Regions from separate parts of the Homo sapiens genome. Here region 1 is linked to region 2. Evidence: fine-mapped expression QTL. A gene starts in region 2. The other region holds a variant in brackets. All regions are shown on one strand. Distances are from middle to middle. Region 1 overlaps RIMS3 (regulating synaptic membrane exocytosis 3). Region 2 holds the start of RIMS3 (regulating synaptic membrane exocytosis 3).

Region 1 (2,905 bases), 26 kb before region 2:
GGGCTCCAGAGACCAAAAGACTCCAGGAACCATCCCATCTGTCCCATCACAAACAAAGGAGGGGCACTCACAGCCTGTACCACCACTCCCTATGGCATCTTCTGGAATGGTCCTGAGCCCTCTCTCTACCCTGACCCAGATCCCAGAGTCCAGAAGGGGAAAGCCACTGTCCCTGGTACTGAAAATACTAGCTCCGTTTGGGCAGGGGCTGGGACAGCCCAGGATGGTCCTGTGTAGACCCAGCCAATTGCCAGACCAGAACCCACCTGTGTCCTGGACCCAAAGCTCTGACCCCACCCTCCTCACTGCTCCCACGACTTAGTGAATGTCAGATCCAGAAGGAAACTGGGAGAGAGCATTTTAGCTCCATTTTACAGAAGAGGAAACTGAGGCCCAGCGGAAAAGTAAATTTCCCGAGGTCCCATGGTGAGTTACAGAGCCAGGACTAGCCCTCTAAAGTGAGTTTTTGTAAGTCCACTCTAGGGCAACAAGAGGAATAAACTGGAAGAAGGCAGGCAGGAGGCAGGAGAGCTAGAGAGGAGGGTGGTGCAATCGTCCAGGCTAGATATTATGGGTCCTGTACTAGGGCAGGGGCTTTGAAACAAAGAAGGATGGGCAGAGGTCTAGCCATTGCACAGTACGGACACACCAGGAGGAAGGAGGCCCTGGGAAGGGCAGACCTGAGCCCAGAAGACAGAGTCCAGGAGAGGAATTCCTCCCCACTTCACACAGCCCAGCCCTGCAGGGAATGGAGCCATCTCATCTGTCAGGAGTGGGGGCACCCTTCTAGGTCTTTCCCAGAACAGTTTCCAGAGCCAATGCCCATGAGTCTGCCTCATATATTCCTCTGGCACCAGATGCTCCCACCCATGAGGTGGGTCCGAGCTGGGATACTGGCATCCTCAAGGCATGGGGGCAAAAAATGGAGAAGGAATTCTAGATGGAGAGGAACGTGCTACAGGGAAGGAGCAGAGGTGTGGAGGCTGAGAACTCACTTCTCTTTTGGCTTTATGGTACAATGGCAGGTAATAATAACAGCATCAACACTTCACTGAGTGCCTATACTATGTGCCAGGCATGAAGCTGGGTGCCTTTGCATACCCTATCTCACTTAATTCCCTGGATAACTCTGCAAGGCATGTATCATTGCCCTCATTCTACAAACAAGGCAGCAGGCTCAGAGAGGTGAAGTAACTTGCCTTAGTCACCCGGCTAGTAAATGACAGGGGATGGATCTGAACTTGAGGTCGTTCTCCAGGAACATGCTTTCTCCCCAGGCTCTGGATGCCTCATCAATAAAATAAGTACAGCGTACTAGATGATCTCAAGGGACTCTCCTCACTCACATTCAGCAATTAGCTGATTCACAGAGACCTTCAGTTAGAAGGGCATCTGGGCAGTTCCCCTAGCTCCAGTCCTTTAGCCATGCCCTTGCATACCAAGGAGACAAGGGATTCAGAAGCCCCAT[C/G]ATCATTCATCTCTTCTCAAGATGAAAGGTCTTCCTGGTATCTGCTCCAATCCCTGCCTGCAGCCTGTAAAGTCAAGGCAGACCACTAGAAGGTTCTCCCAGTGACTCAGGTCCCCATCCTGGCCTTGGAAGACTGTCCCCCCAAATCACTTTGGGCATGAAGAAGCCTTTGGGTCTGAAGCTGAATCAGCTGGATTTCTGGGCTTGGTCCCCTGGAGCCAGACTCCCGGGGTCCAACACCTCCACGACCTTCTAATCTTAATCTCACTCCTTAGTCCTATCTCAGCCCCTTCCTTGTCCCAGCCCAATTTCTAGATCCCTAAGTCCCCATCTCCCTGACTCTCTAGTACCAGGCCTAAACTGCATATTCACAGAGGCCATGCCCACTCTAGGGCTCTGATAACCTCAAGCCCCTTCCCCACCTATAATAGCTTTCCCCAGCGAGAAACCACATCACAGCTTGATTGCTGGAAAAGACCAGCCCACGTGCTACTGTCGACGGCTTTGTATAAATCTATTTTAAGGCCTGGAAAAGTCCCCCACCCCCAGCCCCAACTGGGAGCCTTGATGAGCATTCTCCCTGGATCCTCCGGAGCCCCCGCCCCCTCACCATCCCATCCAGCTGCCTATTTGAAGGTTTCTGGGGAAGTTGTTACTCTGAACAAAATAAGCCGGAAGAGATTTTAAAACAAAACCAGCTGGTGTCTGGGCTGATACCACAAAGTGAGGAGGTCTTGGTGGGGAGGGCTGGCTCCTCTGTGATGTGGGGTCTATGTATGTCACAAGGTGGTCACCCACCAGGCTGAACATAACTGAGATTCTGCAGCTAGGTGTCTGAAAAAGGATACTGTATTGATGAGGATGGAGCTGTTAAGGTGTGTGTGAATGTGGCTTTGTGATGTACACCTGCACACATGTGACATGTTTCTGTGATCTGGGTCTGTGCATGTGTAATCAGAGGGCTGTGTCTGTGTGGTTTGCATGACTGGTTTTATCTGTGACCATGCGCAGTGTGAATTACTCTATTATGCTTCCCTGGAAATACGGGCAGCTTACCAGAGACACTGAGCGTTCTATTTATGTAACTGCACAAGTCACACATCTTTGTGTGTGTCTCCCTTGTGCTTTGTAACATATACATGGGACTACAGAACTGCATTTGTGTGGCTATTTGTATTTAGGAGACTAGGAGATTACAGGCGAGACTGAATCTTTTTTGTTTTTTAAACCAGGGGGTCTCACTATGTTGCCTAGGCTGGTCTCAAACTCCTGGGCTCAAGTGACCCTCCCGCTTCTCCCTCCCAAAGTGCTGGGATTATAGGTGTGAACCCTGCACCCAGCACTTGAGACTAAATCTTATGGATGTGTATGTCTGTAAAACTGTGGTGTCACTTACACAGTGCCAGGATCATAAGGCTGTTTAATAAGTAATTACTG
Region 2 (2,905 bases):
AACAGAAGGCAGGGAAGGGGTCTGTGGGCCCTAAACAAACAACAAAGGGCATGGTGCTTGGTTTAAGCACAGGGCACATGGGTCACCTCCCCAGCACATCCCTGCCAACCCACCCACCCCGCCTCCCAACCAAGAATGCCCCATTAGGCTACCCACATGCCCCCAGGGACAGTTGGCAGCTGCCTGATTACAGACTAATTGGTGGCTGGCAGCAACTATGGTGGGGTGGGGGAGATGGCTCATTAACCCCTTGTTGACCAGGCCCAATCCTCCTCCCATGACTTCAGGCCCCAAACCCAAGGAACCCAGACTTAAGAAGTCATCATGGATAGAGGACAGGACCAAAGGAGCAGCAGCCTTCTTCCCTACATCCTGATAACACCCCTGGGGCTAGGGTTGGACACATATTCACCCAGGTGTCCAAGCCCTGAAGGACCACATTGAAACAGGCCCCAAGTGGCAGTGCCAGCCAATGCCCCCTGTTCTCCAGCCTTGATATGCCATTGCCCACCCCATTCCAGGATCCTTCCTGAGCCTTCAGGACCAGGACACTGAAGAAACCCACTCCTCAGGGCTGAGTTGTCCAGAGGTGATGGGGACATGGAGTCCAGGTACCCAGGCGGCCAGTCAGGGAAGAGCTCCTCCCTATGAATGAGAGCATGCCCAAGTTGCCCATCAAGGGTCCTGCCAAGCCTCCCTGAACCCTGGGCTCTGCACCATGCTGCTGACCAACTGCATTCCCAGCTTCCCAAAGCCCCCTCTTCCCACCCCAGGGCTGGAGTAAGCAGCACTCCTTTTCTTTTATGGGGTGGAGGGGGTCCTCTGGACACCACAACGGTGTCACGTTGAGGAAAAAGTGGCTGCTTCTCAACCAGGGCACAGGCAGAAGGGAGAAAAGCAGGCTGCCTTCCAGCTCCCTTTCCAGGAGGGATTTTAAGCACTTTCCAAAAATGCCATGCCAGGCAATGCTGTTGAAGACCAGGGCCCCAGGAGCTCTGAGCATCAGCAAAGAACTCAAGACTCTGGGCCCCCTTCCCCATTTTCCAGGCTTCCCCAAACACCCCACGTCCCTCTCTCATCCCTTAGTCCCCTCCCCAGAGCCCTCTCACACCCTGTGTTCATCCCCCCACCCCCGCCCCTGCACACTCACATACCTACGTTGCGCTTCATGGCCAGAGCCCCCCTCCCCCCGTGGTCCTCCAGACCTCTGCAGCCCCCTCCCCACGTCCACTCCCAGGCGAGCAAGGCCTGCTGACTTACCCGGAGGTGGGGCCGGGGTCCAGACAGGGAGGGGGCCTCCACAGGCCGAGGCGGCTCCGCAAGGCGGGGCAGGTGCTGCCCCGGGACCCCGCCCCGCGAACCCGGCAGTAGGCGCGGCCCGGCCCCAGGCTGGCGCGGACTCCGAGTGGATAGGCACGCGGGGCGGGGAGGGGCGGCGAGGGAGGCTCACGGGGGCATCGCCCGCCACCACGGGGGCAGCTCCGCTCCGCCCGCCTGCGCTGCCGGCTCCGCAGCAGCCACCGTTTTCAGTCGCCGCCGGGTGCAAAGCCCAAGCTTGGGCCGGCGGGAGGCGAAGGGGAGGCGGGGCCTGCCGGGGGCGGGGCCGCGTGGATGGGCGGGGCCAGTGGGCCGGACCTTGGTGGTGGGCGGGGCCTAGGGGAATCCGGGGAGTTTGGCTTGCCGGGTTGTGGTTGGGGGACCTACATTAATGAGGCTTCCAAGAAGCGGGGTCTGGGGAAGCCTCATTCCTCTCCGTGTCCCTAGGACTCTCTTGCCTCCTGCCCGGCCTCCCCTCTCCACCACCTACCCTATCTGTTCTTTCTCATCCTTCCTTTTCTTTGGGGCACCTCCCAGGACCTCACAGGCACCACGGCGCCCCCTGCCCTGCCCTGCCCTGAAGCAGTTCCAGGAACGTCAGATGGTAAGAGAAGAAACGACTTACAAACGTCAAGTCCATTTTACAGATGGAAAATCTGAAGCTCAGATAGGAGAAAAGACTTGCCCAAGTGCCTGGTATGAAGAGAAAGACTTTATAATGTCCCTTTCAGACAGAAGGAAGTAGAGTGGCCGGCCCTGAAGCCCAAGTTAACCTGCTTCCCCTGCGCTCTCTACTTCTAGAGCAATGGTTTTAAACTTGGGGCGATTTTGCCCCCCAGGGAACATTCGACCATGTCTGGAGACATTTTTGGTTTTCCCAACGAGGAGGTTGCTACTGGCGTCTCATGAGAAGAGACCAGGGATGCTGCTACACGCCTTCAATGCACAGGACAGCCCCTGCGCCAGAGAATTGTCAGGCCCGAAATGTCAGCAGGTTTCTGAGGTTGAGAAACTCTGTTCTAGGGCCTGGCATCTGCCTATATAAACTTCCAAATAGACTCCTGGAGTCCTGGGTTCTTCTGCAGCCCGGGAGGATACTGTATGAAGTCTTTCCTAGGGTCGTGCCTGCCCCAACTTGTATATTTAACCTTGCTTAGGACTGGTCAGTTCCACTCTTGGGCTCCAGTGTTTTGAATTCCACCCACTGACAGAGAGGACAGAATAATTAATATTTGCTGGAGGCATGTAAAACCAGTAGTCTCCCTGCTGAGGGCATGAATTAAAATGTAAATGGGAGCTGGGTGCGGTGGCTCATGCCTGTACCAGTGTTTTGGGAGGCCAAGGTGGGTGGATTGCTTGAGGCTGGGAGTTCGAGATCAACCTGGCCAACATGGTGAAACCCCATCTCTACTAAAAATACAAAAATTAGCCAGGTGTGGTGGCACACAACTATAGTCCCAGCTACTCGGGAGGCTGAGGTACGAGAATCACTTGAACCCAGGAGGCGGAGGTTGCAGTGAGCCGAGGTCGCACCACTGCACTCCAGCCTGAGTGACAGGGGGAACTCTGTCTCAAAAAAAAGTAAATG

What was found. PIP is the estimated chance that this variant, and not a neighbour inherited with it, causes the effect. A credible set is the group of variants that fine-mapping cannot tell apart.
Region 1: its variant is the best candidate, but not a certain one, in a credible set for the expression of RIMS3 in whole blood (INTERVAL, PIP 0.89).

What each region holds. Positions count from the first base shown.
Region 1 is chr1:40,638,462-40,641,366 of GRCh38, forward strand. All of the region lies in intron 3 of RIMS3 (regulating synaptic membrane exocytosis 3), which reads right to left. Among named protein-coding and RNA genes, the nearest start is that of RIMS3, 26 kb to the right of the region's middle. The variant C/G (reference allele first, on the strand shown) is at 1,469.
Region 2 is chr1:40,664,134-40,667,038 of GRCh38, forward strand. It overlaps RIMS3 (regulating synaptic membrane exocytosis 3), which reads right to left and starts at 1,549. Exons shown (of 8, transcript NM_014747.3): 1 at 1,261-1,549. It overlaps LOC105378675 (a long non-coding RNA gene), which reads left to right. Exons shown (of 2, transcript XR_947238.3): 2 at 1,855-2,905. RefSeq lists a silencer at 1,265-1,694.